2 separate regions of the Homo sapiens genome follow, and region 1 is reported to be linked to region 2. The links are microRNA targets in miRTarBase. Many come from high-throughput screens and were not tested one by one. Region 2 holds a microRNA gene; the other region holds the end of a gene's coding sequence.

Region 1 (3,394 bases), not on the chromosome of region 2:
GGAGGCGGAGGTTGCAGTGAGCCGAGATGACGCCACTGCACTCCAGCCTAAGCGACCGAGCGAGACTCCCCTCTCAAAAAAAAAAATTGGGAAACAGTGATGTCTCCGAGCGCCGTGCCCTGTCATAGCCTAGGCTGAGGGCTGCCCTTCACTCTGCGACCTTGAGCAAGGTCCTTAAAGCTCTCCATCTTCCCATTAAAATGGAAACGGACATCTATTAAGGTTGTTGGGAGGAATAACAAGATTACTGGGTATAACAGGAGCTCAGTACTGCACTCCAGCCTGGCCGGCAGAGTGAGACTCAGTCTCAAAAAAAAAAGCGCTCAGTAAATACTACTTTCATCCCACAAATTTCTTATTCAGAGGGCACTGGAAAGGTCGGTACTTAGATGCCCAGTGAAAACCCCTCACCCCAATCTCTGCCCTGCCTGCAGGAGCCCTCGTACTCGGTGCTGGTCTTCTCTTCTCTCTCCGGTCTGTGCGCTCAGTGGTGCTTCGAGCTGGAGGGCAGCAGGTGACCCTCACCACTCATGCCCCCTTTGGCTTGGGGGCCCATTTCACAGTTCCTTTGAAGCAGGTATCTTGCATGGCCCACCGGGGTGAAGTCCCTGCCATGCTACCTCTGAAAGTCAAAGGCCGACGCTTCTATTTCCTCTTGGACAAAACTGGACACTTCCCTAACACAAAACTCTTTGACAATACTGTGGGTGCCTACCGGAGCTTGTGAAGAAATGACCTCAAGTCACTCACCTCTCCAAGAGGAGGATAAAAACTGAACCTTGGGGAGCCAGGTGTGTTGGTTCACACCTGTTGTAATCCCAGCACTTTGGGAGGGTGAGGCAGGAGCACTGCTCGAGCCCAGGCTGGGCAACATAGCGAGACCTTGTCTCTATTTACAAAAAAAAAAACAAAAAAAAACGCCAATCTTAGAATGGAGTAACAACCAGGGTCACACAAGGAGGTCAAGATTCATTAACAACAAATAAAGGAGCAGTCATCCCTAGGGCAGCTGCCTAACAGTACCTCTAAGTTTCAGTCCATGTCTGCTTAGCCTTCACTCCTTCCTCCTATCTAGTTGTACTTTAACATCAAAAACTCACTACTAAGATGAAGACAGTAATATAATATTTTGGTACAAAAACAGCTGCAGGAAGAGGTGGAGGGGGGCCTGTCATTATGTTTCCCCCCCACCCCCCAACGAAAGGAAAACTAAGACTCCCAACATAAACAGGGCCTTGAGGGGGGGGATTACAGGCACTTGGGCATGGAGTCTTCGGCTGCAGGAAGCACTCCGCTTATTCTTCAGGAATGGGAAAGGCGTGACCCAACGAGAGCATCTGTCTCAGAGCTCCACTCAGGGTCACCCCTCTCCAGAGGCCGGTATGGGGTGGCTTCAGACTTCCACTGCACGACCTGGAGCACCAAGACCACACACCACAATACCAAATTCACCCAAGAAGAGGTCTGTAGGAGACAGGGACAGGATCGTCAGGAGTGGGACCATTTCAAATCCAGTCCTTCCCACCCACACACCACTCTGAACTGCTGAATTTTAAGCTGACAACCCCTTCAGCTCCTCTCACTGGTAGGCCAAGCTCACAATACACTGGTGAGCACCCACACAGCTACAGATATTTATGTCAGTTTTTCCTCCTATCCTTGGGTCTCACTTCAGCATTGTGTAGGTTGGAGTAAAACTGCAGAGCAGTTCCAGGGGGTGTCCATGGAATTTTCTGGGCTTCAGAACAGCTGTGAGGTCAAAGAGACAGTTGTGAGAAAGCGTGATAGTTTATATCCGAGGCACACCTGTGCCCAGTGCCCTGTGAGTTGAGAGCAACTGATGGGGATAAAAGGAAATTATAGGACCCCGCTGCAGAGGGAAGGTAGTCAGCCCCAGCCAGGCTTCCCTCCCTCTCCCATTACCTAATTGTAGTGTTCAAGGAGATGATGGAGTTGCAGAGAGACCTGGTGCCAAATCGAAGGATACAGGCAGACACCAAGACCAGGAAGACGGCTATAGCTGAGATGGCCAGTGCAATGCGCAGCCCTATAGCACCTCTGAAAGGGAGAGAACAAGCCTTGTGGTGGAGGTGAGGCTCATCCTACCTCAGCCCCTGGCCCTCAGGGTTAGGCAGTCACCTGTGGGAGTCCTCGATGCAGCTGCTGTAGATCCAGAAGAGCAAAAGCAGGAGGCAGTAGAGGGCCAAGAGGCCAGAGGCCCCAGCTACAAAGTAGCACAGGGATGGTGCTGAGGGACGGGATAAGGCCAGGGAGGAGCCATTCAGGGTGGCCACACCATACAGGGGACATCTACCACTGAAGGAGCCCTGTGGAGAGAAGCTGCTGAGTCCTAGATTTCAGGTTAATGTCTCTAGATACAGTCTCTTGGTAGGGTGTTAGTGATAACTTAGGAATGGTCCTGCATTCCAGGAAGTTATTTGTGCACCGTCAATTCCTATTTCTGGGACAGGGATATTGATGGAGAGGGCCTGCTGGGGAATCACACCGGCAGTGGCCAGAAGGATCAGAAAATAGGCAATGAATATAGAATGCAATGAGCTTCAGAGAAGCCTCACAAGTTATGGTCTCTGTGCAGAAACCTTAGAGTAAACCCAGGCCTTGTATATCCTTCAACAAATAACTATCTGTGAGGTGCTTTTTTTTTTTTTTTTTGCTGGAGTGCAGTGGCGCCATCTCGGCTCACTGCACGCTCTGCCTTCTGGGTTCATGCCATTCTCCTGCCTCAGCCTCCTGAGTAGCTGGGACTACAGGCACCCGCCACCATGCCTGGCTAATTGTTTGTATTTTTAGTAGAGACAGGGTTTCACCGTGTTGGCCAGGATGGTCTTGATCTCCTGACCTCGTGATCCGCCTGCCACGGCCTCCCAAAGTGCTGGGATTACAGGCGTGAGCCACCAGGCCCGGCCAGTGTTTTTGTTTTTGTTTTTGCGATGGAGATTCGCTCGTCACCCAGGCTGGAGTGCAATGGCACGATCTCGACTCACTGCAACCTCCGCCTCCCAGGTTCAAGCGATTCTCCTGCCTCAGCCTCCGAAGTAGCTGGGATTACAGGCATGAGCCACCACACCCGGCTAATTTTTGTATTTTTAGTAGAGACAGAGTTTTGCCATGTTGGCCAGGCTGGTCTCGAACTCCTGACCTCAAGTGATCCGCCTGCCTCAGCCTCCCAAAGTGCTGGGATTACAGGCGTGAGTCACCGCGCCCGGCGGATCTCTGAGGTTTTCTCATGGTGTAAAATAGGCACACTAGTGCCTACTTTATAGGCATTAAATGAACCCATGTTTATTAACCAGATTACCTGGCTGGGGTAAACGATGTAAATTATTGGCTTCTACCTTTACGTCAGCGTTTTCTCCATCTCTCATTTTGTCAT
Region 2 (3,394 bases):
AGAACTGGGGTTAAGCGAGGTGCTGGAAAGGGTGCCTCTTCTGTCCTCTGTTCTAACGCAGCAGTGCTAACAGATGTGAACACTGAGTATGGTTAAGGGCGGTTTGGGACTGGCAGCTCTTGTGTGTGTCATTGATTGGTCTGATTGTCCCTCTAGGGGCAGCAGTATCGCTCATTTGAACTGGCCAAAAATAGGGACCCTGAGAAGGAAGGGAGCTCGGCTTTCCTGAGTGCCTTCGCCGTGCACCCTGTCTCCGAAGGTACCCTCATGTACCGGCTCCACAAACGCTTCAGCGCTCTGGAGTTGGAGCGGGCTTACAGTGAAATAGAACAACTGCAGGTGAGCTGAAGAGGAGCAGGTGGGCAGAGGACCGCAGTCAGAGGGTCAGAGAGAGCCTGAGATGTCCAGGCGTGCAATGAACGAGCAGCTGGCAGTGGGGCTGGGCTAGGCCCTGTATAATGGCAGGGCAGGAAGAGGCCGACCATACTTAAATTTAAAGCAACTACAGGGACAAAGGTCTTTGGGGGTCCAAAGCAATCATAAGGTAAGCTCCCAGCACAACTTGAATGCAGCTAAAGGGGTTTGCAAGTAGACTCTGAGGATCAGGAAGCTCCGCACAGTGTTCAGACAGAATAGTTTTAGCTCCTCCTCAATAGTGCCTGTCCACTGAGGAGGCAAAAACTCTGAAGTTTCTTTACTTCTAGAACTGTCCCAAGAAAGCCCAAGGGTAGAAGGGAGAATTCTCAAGTTGAACGTCAGGCTTGGCAGAGGTGGAGTGTAGATGAAAACAAAGGTGTGATTATGAAGAGGATGTGAGTCCTTTGGGTGTAGGAGAGAAAGGCTGTTGAGCTTCTATTTCAAGATACTTTTACCTGTGCAAAAAGCACATTTTCCACCTCCTTCTCATGGCATTTGTGTAAGGTGAGTATGATTCCTATTCCATCTGCATTTTAGAGGTGAAGAATAACGTACAAGGGATTCAGTGATTAGCAAGGGACCCCTCACTAAGTGTTGATGGAGTTAGGACAGAGCTCAGCTGTTTGAATCTCAGAGCCCAGGCAGCTGGAGCTGGGTAGGATCCTGGAGCTGGCACTAATGTGAGGTGCATTCCCTCCAACCCAGGCTCAGATCCGGAACCTGACCGTGCTGACCCCCGAAGGGGAGGCAGGGCTGAGCTGGCCCGTTGGGCTCCCTGCTCCTTTCACACCACACTCTCGCTTTGAGGTGCTGGGCTGGGACTACTTCACAGAGCAGCACACCTTCTCCTGTGCAGATGGGGCTCCCAAGTGCCCACTACAGGGGGCTAGCAGGGCGGACGTGGGTGATGCGTTGGAGACTGCCCTGGAGCAGCTCAATCGGCGCTATCAGCCCCGCCTGCGCTTCCAGAAGCAGCGACTGCTCAACGGCTATCGGCGCTTCGACCCAGCACGGGGCATGGAGTACACCCTGGACCTGCTGTTGGAATGTGTGACACAGCGTGGGCACCGGCGGGCCCTGGCTCGCAGGGTCAGCCTGCTGCGGCCACTGAGCCGGGTGGAAATCCTACCTATGCCCTATGTCACTGAGGCCACCCGAGTGCAGCTGGTGCTGCCACTCCTGGTGGCTGAAGCTGCTGCAGCCCCGGCTTTCCTCGAGGCCTTTGCAGCCAATGTCCTGGAGCCACGAGAACATGCATTGCTCACCCTGTTGCTGGTCTACGGGCCACGAGAAGGTGGCCGTGGAGCTCCAGACCCATTTCTTGGGGTGAAGGCTGCAGCAGCGGAGTTAGAGCGACGGTACCCTGGGACGAGGCTGGCCTGGCTCGCTGTGCGAGCAGAGGCCCCTTCCCAGGTGCGACTCATGGACGTGGTCTCGAAGAAGCACCCTGTGGACACTCTCTTCTTCCTTACCACCGTGTGGACAAGGCCTGGGCCCGAAGTCCTCAACCGCTGTCGCATGAATGCCATCTCTGGCTGGCAGGCCTTCTTTCCAGTCCATTTCCAGGAGTTCAATCCTGCCCTGTCACCACAGAGATCACCCCCAGGGCCCCCGGGGGCTGGCCCTGACCCCCCCTCCCCTCCTGGTGCTGACCCCTCCCGGGGGGCTCCTATAGGGGGGAGATTTGACCGGCAGGCTTCTGCGGAGGGCTGCTTCTACAACGCTGACTACCTGGCGGCCCGAGCCCGGCTGGCAGGTGAACTGGCAGGCCAGGAAGAGGAGGAAGCCCTGGAGGGGCTGGAGGTGATGGATGTTTTCCTCCGGTTCTCAGGGCTCCACCTCTTTCGGGCCGTAGAGCCAGGGCTGGTGCAGAAGTTCTCCCTGCGAGACTGCAGCCCACGGCTCAGTGAAGAACTCTACCACCGCTGCCGCCTCAGCAACCTGGAGGGGCTAGGGGGCCGTGCCCAGCTGGCTATGGCTCTCTTTGAGCAGGAGCAGGCCAATAGCACTTAGCCCGCCTGGGGGCCCTAACCTCATTACCTTTCCTTTGTCTGCCTCAGCCCCAGGAAGGGCAAGGCAAGATGGTGGACAGATAGAGAATTGTTGCTGTATTTTTTAAATATGAAAATGTTATTAAACATGTCTTCTGCCAAACTGTTTTTAGGTCTAGGGAAAATTGAGTAAGGAGAAGAATCCAAGGGAAGGGAATGGGGAGTCGTCCCGAGGGACCCACTGCCTCCCCACCTTCTTCCCTTCCCCTTCTCTCCCCCTCCCCTCCCCAGTTTCCAATGACCACACGGCTGCTGTCAGATGAATGACTTTTAATCCAGCCCCACACCCCAAGGTGGCAGAGGAGTGATGCTGGAGCCCGGGGCAAAATGCTGGGGCCCGGGACACGGCTGAAAGTTCCGTCGTGCTGCTTATTTTTGGGCTCCTAGGTGTTGCGCACAACCAGCGACTGCTCCAGCTCCTGCCTGCGCTGCTGGATCTTTAGAGGAAGTGAGAACAGGAGCAGGTGTCAGTGTTCTGGTGAGTGATCAGGACAATCCCACCTACTGACACCGCCTGCCCTGAAAGAGCATCTGGGAGCAGGGAGGGCCATTGCATGGTGAGGCAGCGTGGTGAAGCTTTACTGTGGGGAGCTGCGAGGGCTGCCCACAAGCTGAACAGGGAGGTTTCTCTTGGAGTTGAGGATGGGGAAGCCTCAGGGCAAGGGTCCCTGCATACCTTGCAGTAGAAGTAGCGACTGACGGCCTCCTGGGACCAGGGCTGGTGGTAGAACTCAGCCCGGCGCTCCTCTTCAGGGTTGCCGGCTACATCTGTCATCACCTGGGAGGGAGCGTGGGGTGAGCCCTGAGCCCTGAATCCCCTCACCTGCCCCTGGAGTACAACGTTTACTCTCTTTCCCGCTGTGCTTGTCTTCCACTCCAGTACTCCCTGAGTCTCCCTCTTCACCTTGAGGTCCCGGCTCTGGGAG

The links. Region 2 holds the annotated microRNA hsa-miR-671-3p (UCCGGUUCUCAGGGCUCCACC, at 2,237-2,257, shown strand). A microRNA usually pairs through its seed, bases 2 to 8, with sites in the 3' UTR of a target mRNA and lowers its output. Matches are read on the target gene's strand: a 7mer-m8 pairs with bases 2 to 8, a 7mer-A1 pairs with bases 2 to 7 and ends in A, and an 8mer does both.
Region 1: miRTarBase lists TMEM223 as a target of hsa-miR-671-3p. The part of its 3' UTR that is shown has no 7-base or 8-base seed match.

Annotation. Positions count from the first base shown.
Region 1 is chr11:62,787,956-62,791,349 of GRCh38, reverse strand. TMEM223 (transmembrane protein 223) reads left to right here. Exons shown (of 2, transcript NM_001080501.3): 2 at 435-1,379. The coding sequence ends at 727. TMEM179B (transmembrane protein 179B) reads right to left here. Exons shown (of 5, transcript NM_199337.3): 2 at 2,140-2,327; 3 at 1,924-2,058; 4 at 1,671-1,749; 5 at 950-1,464. The coding sequence ends at 1,303. MIR6748 (microRNA 6748) reads right to left here and starts at 1,535; the gene lies at 1,465-1,535.
Region 2 is chr7:151,236,252-151,239,645 of GRCh38, forward strand. It overlaps MIR671 (microRNA 671), which reads left to right and starts at 2,170; the gene lies at 2,170-2,287. It overlaps CHPF2 (chondroitin polymerizing factor 2), which reads left to right. Exons shown (of 4, transcript NM_019015.3): 3 at 157-339; 4 at 1,123-2,571. The coding sequence ends at 2,430. It overlaps SMARCD3 (SWI/SNF related BAF chromatin remodeling complex subunit D3), which reads right to left. Exons shown (of 13, transcript NM_001003801.2): 11 at 3,373-3,394; 12 at 3,145-3,246; 13 at 2,529-2,905. The coding sequence ends at 2,852. RefSeq lists an enhancer at 3,300-3,394.